2 separate regions of the Homo sapiens genome follow, and region 2 is linked to region 1. Evidence: fine-mapped expression QTL. A gene starts in region 1. The other region holds a variant in brackets. All regions are shown on one strand. Distances are from middle to middle.

Region 1 (5,394 bases):
CTCCACTTCAAAGACACTTGGGCCTACCTCTATTGTCTTTTGTTCTCTCCATGTTATTAGATAGATCGCCTTTTCCAATAGCTGATTCAGGCATGTGTGCAGTAGATTGTCTCTCTGTGTCTCTGGAAGCATAGTGATTTAGATAGTACTTCTCAAACCTTAATGTGCATATGAATCATCCAAGATTCCTGATAAAATGAAGATTCTGATTTAGTGGGTCTTGGCTGGACCTGAAATTCTGCATTTCTAACAAGCTTCCAGGTGATCTCAAGGGTACTAGTCCACAGAACATATTTCAATTAGAAAAGAATTAGACTAAAGTCAAATGCATATGTGACACATACACACATACATACACACACACACACACACACACACACACACACACACACACACACGTCAAAGTAGCTTTGCTTAAGCAGGTGTACCATTCTGGAATGCTTACATCTGATTTCCATTTTAAAATAACAACCATTTTCTCACAGGTTTCAAGATGCTGCCAAATGTGTATGCATTTCTTCTCAGTAATATAACTACATTCCATTTCTGTCTCTGTTGGCAAGCAGGACCTAAAGGTTTCAAAACATGTCAATGGTCTTTTTCAAGAAGAGTCCTCATAAAAAAAACCACCTCATTGTTAGTTGTTCATTAGCAGTCCTCTTACTGACAACTTGGATGTATGCCTCTTAATTTTGCAAGTATTTTAAAATTACAATTACCTCCAAAGCATTTCAAATACTTCTTCTGGCAATAATGTCTGCTTGGAAGCAGAATTCTTAACTCTCCTCCCACAGGTCTTTTCTTTTATGATTCCATAGCCTTGTGGGTTTCCTTAATAGTCCGAAATTCCACAATATAATCCATGTGTGCTGAAAGACATTTGAAATCATTGACATGCCTCAGGGTCTCCGGATTAAGCAACTATCAGCTCTGCCCTTATGTAATTGGACTCAGAGGTGATCTCCTGTTTAGATGCATCTCAGAAATTCCTTCTCCTCCTCCTCCATCCAGCCACTTCCTGCACTTAGAGGAAATCCATTTTTGGTTTAGACAAGTTTGTCAAGCATCACATTTTTATCCCTATGGAAATCTTTCAAGTCAAACCCCAAGAGGTGGACAATACCTCTTTGTGTATATGACAAAGGGTGTAGTCTTAAATATAACTTTCGATTCTTATGAGGTTCTAAGCAAGAACTCAGTCACCCTGGAGAATGAAAGGCTCATGACTGCTGTTCAGGTATTAAAAGTCCTTTTGTTCCTCAGATAGCTGGGAAACTGTGTGAGATATGTAGAGAGTAAAGGCTAATGTGTGCTGCCACTAATTTCTCAAAAAGTCCACAGATCTTAGAGCTGGATGGCCTACAGAGAGTTTCTCATCTAACCTCTGATTTAATTCAGGAATCCTTAATATAGCATATTTGAGATTCATTGAAGGTGCCATGAATACTTTCCAAAGTGGTGCAACCCTAGTTGGACAGCTCCACTTGTTAAGATCTGCAGCTGTGAACAACCATGTGAATTTCCTCTAGTTGCTCCAATGTTTCATAATATCCTTGCTCACCTCCTGAGTTTATATATCTGTTTATGCCTTTTCAAGTTTAGTATTAATTCCTTGTTTAAAGCTCTCAATATTTCAGCTATGGCTCTCCTAAAATGATTTCACTTTAGTTAGGAGTTGAATAGTCATCAAAATGTGTCAAAACCTGGACTTTGGTATATATTATTATAAAGTCTGTATCTCATCACTGTAGTTTGAATTTTAGTGACACCTCTGGTACACCTCACTACCCTCTTAAAGAACTTGATGATGTCTGTCTCACCATAGAACGTGAATCTTTTCTCTCCCATTTTTAGGTGCACCAATGAAGAGTTAAACAGTATGCATTTGACCACACATACTACTCGTGATCCAACTGGGAATATATCCTAGGAAACTTGGCTGCCTGTCCAGTGTGCCACATGACCATCATTTCTGATGACTGTAAATTCACATAGTATTTCTTCTGCTGAAACATGTGGGAGACAATCACATTAGCAAGCTGGAAAAAATCAGTGTAAGTTAAGTAAGTTTCTAAACTGAAGAGCGTGTGTTTTCCAGGATTCCTATTGCTACTGACTGTAAGTGGTCCACATTTTGTTAATGAGATCATGACGCATTTTGGGGAGGGTCCTTTCATTATAGAGCACCAATGTTCACATTCTTCTTCTTGCTTTGCCTGACATAGACTTTGCCCCTGTGACATCCTCCTAACAAGGCACTTCTAATTGTTGGCAGCTGCTGCTGCTGTTAAAATTCTTCATGGCCTCTGTGTTATGCCCTCTAATACATTTCCTGAGAGGCTGAGCTATTCTCTGCTTAAAATTTCAACTATATGCTCTAAACCTGAAACAGATGTTATCTTGGCTGCTGTCATTTGCCATGAGCTTCTCTATTCACATTTTATACAAGGCAGGTAAAAAGCAAGTAATTTCTGACCTCACTCTGTAGAGAAAGAAAAAAGGGAGAGAAGGTAAAATAAGAGAGAGAAGAAGAAATATATAAAGCACAGGAATGCAGCCACATGGAAGCAGAGAACACAGCCACTTGAGCATCTATTATCCTAATATCATATGCTATAGTTTGGTTACTACCGATTTGCCTGGCATCCCTCTCGAATCATATTTGTGGCCACCCAGATTAACTATGTTAGCTGATCTCTTGATTTAATATCAGCTTGTTCTTTTTAGCTCCCATGTCATTTACTGTCTTAAAAAAATGTACTGCTTGTTACTCAACTGTCTGTTTTTTCATGAACCCACAGTCTTTTTTTTTTTTGTCTTTGTTTCTTCTTTTTTGTATGGGAACCAGGAACTAGAAAGCATAAAATGAGAGAAATTACTCACAGAAAAGGTGGAAGCCCAGAGAAAAAGGGGTTTGTCTTTTATGGCTTGTACTTTGTAAGCTGTGGGTGTGACTCAATTTCCTCACCACCCACATAAAAAGGTTGCCACCCAATCACTGTTTTTTTCTACCCCAAACCCCTCCCCTTTGATTTTGGCTAAGAGAGACCCTTAGAAAGACTGCCCTTTCTGGACGTTGCAAACTGTGACATATAAAAGCTGTTAGCTGCTCCTCTAGCCAGCAGCATTCAAACCTTGCAGAGCTTTGCTCTCAGAGAGTTTGTAAAAAGACACACTCCTCTTACAAGAGTTCATGCTACCACATAGCAAAGAACCTTAAATTTTTGGAAGAACAATATATTCATTTTGGCATTGTGCAGAGGTAAGCTATTTAGCTCAACAAGTTTATATTGCATGCATTGATTTTAAAGTAGCTCACATTTTTTTAAAGAAATGAGATTGGATTACTATGACTTTTTTGTATGTGTTCTATCACTTGGTGTGTCTATATGTCTGGCAGACATTATCAGCACATTCTCTGTTGTTACCTGTGATTCATTTTTTCTTCACTCTCCAGGTGAATTTCAATTGCTGAAAATTTCCCACTGAAAATATGCAGTAATATATTTTGTGGTTCAGACATTTGGGGCAAATGGTTCACATTCATTTTAGGGTTAGTGGTCATGCTGTTTATTTTTCTCTGCTATACAAAGTTCCTCTTAGGGGTCTGCCTCATGACACTAAAAAATGAATAGAGATTCTACTGTAGGTTATCTCCTAGGCTTGAGTTCAACATTTGTTTGGATTTTTGAAGAAAGTCAAATCAAGCAATGCTCCCAAATGATGTCTTTGTAAATTCATACCCTCTGGCCCTATTTTTTTTCATAGACCCTAACTCTACCTTTCTGCTTTAAAGCAAAGTAAACTCGGTGGCCTCTTCTTCTCCACCCCTCAAAATGATAGCAATCTCTGCCGTCAGCAGTGCACTCCTGTTCTCCCTTCTCTGTGAAGCAAGTACCGTCGTCCTACTCAATTCCACTGACTCATCCCCGCCAACCAATAATTTCACTGATATTGAAGCAGCTCTGAAAGCACAATTAGATTCAGCGGATATCCCCAAAGCCAGGCGGAAGCGCTACATTTCGCAGAATGACATGATCGCCATTCTTGATTATCATAATCAAGTTCGGGGCAAAGTGTTCCCACCGGCAGCAAATATGGAATATATGGTAAGAAGAATTCTTTTTTTTTTTTTTAAGTTCTGAGTGAGAAAGCTTTATATTGTACATCTGCAGAATCTCAAACGACCACGAGTGTTTATATGTCCGGGTATATGGACTTTTTACATATTTTAACCTAAGGTTCTTATGTGCCTAATAATGTTGAGTACTGTTGCATCACAGAATCAGAGAGACAGAGAGGTCCAGAGAGACAGAGACAGACAGATAGAGAGAATCTATGTAGACTTTCTTCTGTGAGTTCCATAGCTACTGGTGAATTGTATCTTATGTAAGAATCATAGATAAAAAGTGGGGTATGTTGACTGATCACATTTGGAAGGTCCACTTTAAAAAAAGTCACATGAACTTTTTCTGTGCTTTATCTCACAGTCATATTTATCAGCTATATCATTTCTTGAAAATACTTCTTAAAATTATAGGTTTCATATGCATGATTTATTCTCTGGGTAGGTGTCTTTTCCCTTTTTTGGACAAAGTTCTTACTGACGCTAACCTATTTGTATTCTAAGAGAACATGCTGACTTTTTTCTCCTTGTGATTTAATGCTTTGCTGTCCAGATAACAGTGAAGCCAGTGCATTTGCACACTGTTCCAACTTGCCGTGAACACATTTTTTGCTCTTTCTTAAAAATAGACAATGTTTAAATCATTTTACTTAGAAAGTAAAAAAAAAAGTTAGTATTGAAAGGAAAAAGTCTTGTTAAAATTTTTATTTGGTTTTGAATTTATGCAAGGTTATGATTTAAAGTCCAGCGTCTTACAAGAGCACAGCTTGGAGCCTGTTTAAGGCAATGAAGACCATCAATATGGTATTTCCAAATTGGGGTGAGGGGAGGGGGTACCACTAACAGTTTTATATGTGCTGAATTAAAATTTGGGATTTTTATCATATTCTAGATTCACTTGTTTTATGTAAATAAGTTATATTAAAAAGTTTGGCTAGTTGCAGATGCCAATGTCACAGGAAAACTAAAGACTTGCTAAATGATGTAACAGAGTCACAGTTCATAGAAGTACAATTTAGACTCTGTGAAAATGCATTTTCCTAGAATTTATAAAGACAGAGAAGATGTAATCAGTCCTGGTGTGTGAGGAGCAGTATAGTCTCATGATTAAGAATATGGGCTATATAATCTAAATGCTTGGGTTTGAATCCTAGTCCTGAAGTATATGCTGAATGAACTCATTACCACACTGTTTCATTTTCATCATCTCTAATATGAAGATAAAGGTGGTATCTGCCACACAGCATTGTTGTGAGAAATGTATGAGT
Region 2 (5,394 bases), 210 kb before region 1:
TGCAGTAAGTTAAAAATTTATACAATAGTTCTCACTTATAAGTGGGAGCTAAATGATGAGAACACATAGACACGTACAGGGGAATGATAGACACTGGGGCCTACCCGAGTGTAGAGGGTGGAAGAAGGGAAAGGATCAGGAAAAATAACCAGTAGGTACTAGGTTTGATACCTGGGTGACAATCTGTGCAACAAATTCCTGTGACCTATATAATAAATCTGCTCATGCACCCCTGAACTTAAAATAAAAGTTTTAAAAAATTGTACTTTAAATCCTAAAGCAAACATTAAAAGAACACAACAAAAACATAGCTAGTATGTAACAAAGAAAAAAAGGCAGATAAAATGAAATAATAAAAAACCCTCAATCCTAAAGGCAAAAAAGGACAAATTGAACATTACCAATAGCCGTATTAAATGTAAATGGCCTAAAAATCCCAACTAAAAGGCAAAAAAATTGAAAGATTGGAGAAAAAAGCAAGATCCAACTATATATAGCCTATAAGAAACCCACCTTAAATATAATGACCCACACAGAGTAAAACTTAAAAAAAAAAAAAGATTTGCTTGCTAACATCAATCAAAAGAAAGCTGGAGTGGCTATATTAATATCAAAGAAAGTAGATTTCAGAACATAAAAATAATAGTAGCTATAAGATAATTAATTCACAATAATAAAGGGAGTGAGTTTTTTAGGGGAAAATGATATTAAACATTTAAGCACTTAATAATAGAGCTTAAAAAATACACATAACAGGCCAGGCATGGTGGCTCACGCCTGTAATCCCAGCACTTTGAGAGGCCGAGGTGGGTGGATCACCTGAGGTCAGGAGTTTGAGACTAGCCTGGCCAACATGGCAAATCCCCGTCTCTACTAAAAATACAAAAATTAGCCGGGCGTGGTGGTGGGTGCCTGTAATCCTAGCTACTTGGGAGGCTGAGGCAGGAGAATCACTTGAACCCAGGAGGCAGAGGTTGCAGTGAGCCAAGATCATGCCATTGCTCTCCAGCCTGGGTGACAAGAGTCAAACTCCATCTAAAAAAATAAAAATACACAAAACCAGAACTGATAGAACAAAAAGGAGAAATAGGCAAATCTACCATTTTATTCAGGAATTTAACCCTTTTTCAGTAATTAATAGTATAAGTGAAATACAGGTTTAGTCACTCACTGCTCATGGAGTTCAATTAATAAGAGCAAAGTCTGGTATAAAGAAAGTGACTCTTTATTACAAAACTAGCTTAGCGGAAGTACAGCCTTCCTGTCTTAAGGGTACCGCTTCACCTTTGGATCAGAAAGTGGTTGCTTTTAAAGGGGGCCTATTATGAATGGCACACAAGGGAGAAAGCAAGCAGGTGTGGGAGGTGTCTACATGTTAGCTTGGTGCCTTATCTATTGGGCAGTTGAATTGGCATCTTCATTGGCAGAAATATTAATAGATTGTAAAGGTGTCCAAAAACTCTCCAGGTGGGAGAGAATTTTGCATGGGACTTTGGGTTGTAAATTGGCGGCTGTCTCTTCAGACAGTTTCCTGGTAGGTTAAAATTTCATAGCAGGCATATTTTAGGTTGTAAGTCAACTGTTAACTCTTGGATCACCTTTTCGGTGGGTGAGAGTTCTGCTCTAGAGCTTCTAAGCACATAATTAGATGAACTTGCCCTATAGGGAGTGTCTGGGGAAGAAGATGTAAAAGGTTATAATTGCATTTCTAAAGGGCTAAATAGGAAATAGGGAATGGGGGAAATGGAGAAAGGAGAAAAGAAGAGAAAATAATTTTTTAAATTGTAACTCTTTTTTTCTTTAACAACTGGGTTACTCAGTTACGATAAGATGAAGAGAAAAAAACATCTATAAGAATATTGAAGTCTTAACACTATCAATCAGGTTGACCTTATTGACCTACAAAGAGCACTCCATCCTAAAAAATCAGAATACACATTCTTTTCAATGTATATTTTATGTGTATTTAATATATAGTTCACACTAAATATTTACCAAGATAGACCATATTCTGAATCATAAGTTAAGATTCAATCAATTAAATTCATACAAAGTATATTGTCAGACCACAGTTAGAAATCATGAATAGAAAAATCTCCAAATATTTGAAAATTATAAAGACATTTCTAAGTAAACTGTGTGTCAAGAAAGGAATGTAGAAAATATTACGAACTGAATGAAAATGAAAATACAGTATCAAATTTTGTGAGATGAAGTTAAAACAAAACTTAGTGGAAAATTTATGACACCAACTACCTGTATTAGAAAAGAAGAAAGGTCTCAAGTCAGTAATCTCAGCTTAAGTTTTAAGAAATAAGAAAAAACAAAATAAAATCCAAAGTAAATACTTTTTAATGTTACAGAACATAATAATAAAAACCAGAGCAGAAATTAATGAATGAGAAAACATAAAAGTAATAGAGAAAATTAATAAAAACAAAAGAATTTTTAAGATTAATAAAGTTAATAGGCTTTTTGGCAACCAGTGATAAAAATAAGAGTAAATATGCAAATTACCAGTGTCAGGAATAAGATATGTGACATCACTAAAGAGTTTATTGATATTAAGAGGATAATAACAAATATTGTCTCTTAAAATATGTGAATAAATTTGACTACTTACAAGAAAAGAACAAATACCGTGAAAGATAAAAATTAACAGAGTTTACTGAGGAAGAAATAGATAACCTGAATAGTCCCATATTTAGTAAAATAGTTGAATTGTAGTTAAAAATTTTTTACACAGGAAACTTTAGACCCAGATGCTT[C/T]GCTAGGGAATTCTATCAAACATTTAAACAAGAAATAAAGCCAATGCTATACAAGTTCTTCCAGAAAATTATAAAAGAGAAAATATTTTTCAACCAATTATACGATGCCAGCATTACTCAAACACCAAAACCAGACAAAGATATTGCAAAGGAAGAAAATTGCATGCCAATATTCCTCATAAATGTGATACAAACCTTTCTAACAAAATTTTAATTGATCAAAGTTAACAACATATAACAGTGATAATAAGTCAAAACCTTGTATGATTTATTCCAAGAATGCAAAATGAGTTTAACATATAAAGATCAATCAATTTAATATGCCAGATTATTAGACTAAAAAAAGATACTCTCATTTAATGTAATAAATGTATTTTATTTATAATAATAAATAAATAATAATAATAATAAATAATACTTATTCTTAACCTAAAACTCTCAGCTAGGACTAAAAAGAGAGTGCTTCAACCCACTATGAACATATGTGAAAAACCTACAGACAACATAATACTTAATGGTGAAAGAAAATTCTTTCTTCATAAGACCAGGAAAAATGTAAGAATATTTACTCTCATCCTTTGTATTTAACATTATATCGAAACTTCCAGCTAGTGCACTAAAACAAAAATAAATAAATAAATTAAAGATGTTGATATTGGAAAATAGTAGTCCTGTGGGAAATGTATGGCACCAACTACCTGTAATGGAAAAGAAAAAATGTCTGAAATCAATCATCTCAGCTTACATCTGTTCTTTATTTGCAGACAACATAATCATCCAAAAAAAAAATTCTATGGAATCTTCAAAAGATACTAGAATAATGTGTGAATTTAACAAGGTTGCAGGATGCAAGATTAATATACAAAATTTAATTGTGTTTGTATATTCTTGGAATCAATAATTTTAAATTGAGTTAAAATTCAATATCATATACAATAGTGTTCTTACTTATGAAATAGAGAATAATCTTCAAAAGGTATGCAAGACCTGTAAAATACAAACTATACAATATTGCTGAGAAAAAATTTTTAAAACTTATGAAAAGGAGAGTTATGTTCATAGTTTGGAAGATTCAACATTGTTAATATGTCAAGTATCTAAATTAATCTATAAATTTCTCAGCAGTCCTTTTCTTTTTAATAGAAATTGACATGCTCATTCTAAAATTTATGTAGAAATGCCAACCACTGAGAATAGCCAAAAAAACTCTGAAAAAAAAGAGGCAACTTGGAAGACTTACATTTCCTGCCTTCAAAAACCTTTATAAAGCTACAATAATCAAAGCAGTATGATATTGGCATGAGGATAAAATATGATGAGTTCAGAAATATACTCACACATGTACAGTTAATTGATTTTTGACAAGGAACCAAAGGCAATTCAGTGGAGAACAGATAGGTTTTTCAATAATGTTGCTGTAACAATTGAATATCAATAATTCAATTGAATAACAATTGAATAACAACACCCCACTGCCTACCTTACATCATATACAAAAATGAATTCAAAAGAAATTATAGACCAAAAAGTATCAAGCTAAAAATACACAATCTCTAGAAGAAAACATAGGAAATTGGATTAAGTAAAGACTGCTTAGATATAATACCAAAAACATAATTCACAAAATAAAACATTGATAAATTGAACATTATCAAAATGAAGAACAGCTCTTAGAAAGACACTATTAAGAGAGTGAAAGATAAGTGACAGTCTGCTAGAAAATATTTGCAAATCATATATCTGATAAAGGGTTTATACTTTGAACATAAAAATCTTTCAAAACTCAATAATAAAAATAATGTAATATTGGCAAAATATTTGAATAGACGCTACATCAGAAAATATATATAATGGCAAATAAGCACATTAAAACACTAAACATCAATTTTTCATTAGGGAAATGGAAAGTAAAACACCATGAGATACCATTGCACACCTATTACAAATATCTTATATTAAAAACACTGACAACATCAAATGTTGGAGAGGATGAAGAGAAACTGGAACTCTTATATACTGTTGGTGGAAATATAAAGCAGTAAAACTATTTTTTGAAAGAATTTGGCGATTTTTAAAAAAATTACATAAATTACATGCCATTTAATTTGATTAATAGTTGATTTTAAAATGACCCTTCCTAAATGGCCATGTGAATAGTATTTGTGAGCCTTTTGCAAGATGTCTGTTAACATCCCCTGCTGTAATGTAAAAAACACATTTCTTTAATAATCTTGCTTCAGAAAGTCTCTCATAAATAGTACATTTTATTTATTTAGACAAGGAGAATTATATAATACATAATACTTTTCTTTTTTACTTTGTAAGGACACTACGAACAAAATGTAATGTTTCATGATTATAAATCTCTTAAGCTGTGGTTTTCATTTATCTGTTCCCTCAGCTTTATGGCTCCTCATGTAAATTTGCAGAAATCCATCCATTCATCCATCCATACACCACCTATCATGATTGATAGGATGTTCAACTATTTGGAATGCCAGTAGAGGAAATTGTGAAGCAGGTTTACTCTGCACCAGTTGTTTGCCTGACTTGGGTGTGATAGAACACTCACACAAAGTTACATGAACCAAATTTGTTACTTACAGATAGACGGCAAGGGACAACC

Direction of the effects. Positions count from the first base shown, and alleles are read on the strand shown. Sizes are in standard deviations (SD) of each study's normalised expression.
With allele T in place of C in region 2, the expression in unexposed skin of the gene that starts at base 3,121 in region 1 is higher (large effect, 1.3 SD a copy in GTEx).

What was found.
Region 2: its variant is fine-mapped to the expression of PI15 in unexposed skin (GTEx, PIP 0.94).

The regions. Positions count from the first base shown.
Region 1 is chr8:74,821,414-74,826,807 of GRCh38, forward strand. It overlaps PI15 (peptidase inhibitor 15), which reads left to right and starts at 3,121. Exons shown (of 6, transcript NM_015886.5): 1 at 3,121-3,262; 2 at 3,797-4,109. The coding sequence starts at 3,837.
Region 2 is chr8:74,606,575-74,611,968 of GRCh38, forward strand. All of the region lies in intron 1 of MIR2052HG (MIR2052 host gene), which reads left to right. LINC03071 (long intergenic non-protein coding RNA 3071) reads right to left here. Exons shown (of 7, transcript NR_183468.1): 7 at 3,219-3,466. Among named protein-coding and RNA genes, the nearest start is that of MIR2052HG, 9.5 kb to the left of the region's middle. The variant C/T (reference allele first, on the strand shown) is at 2,769.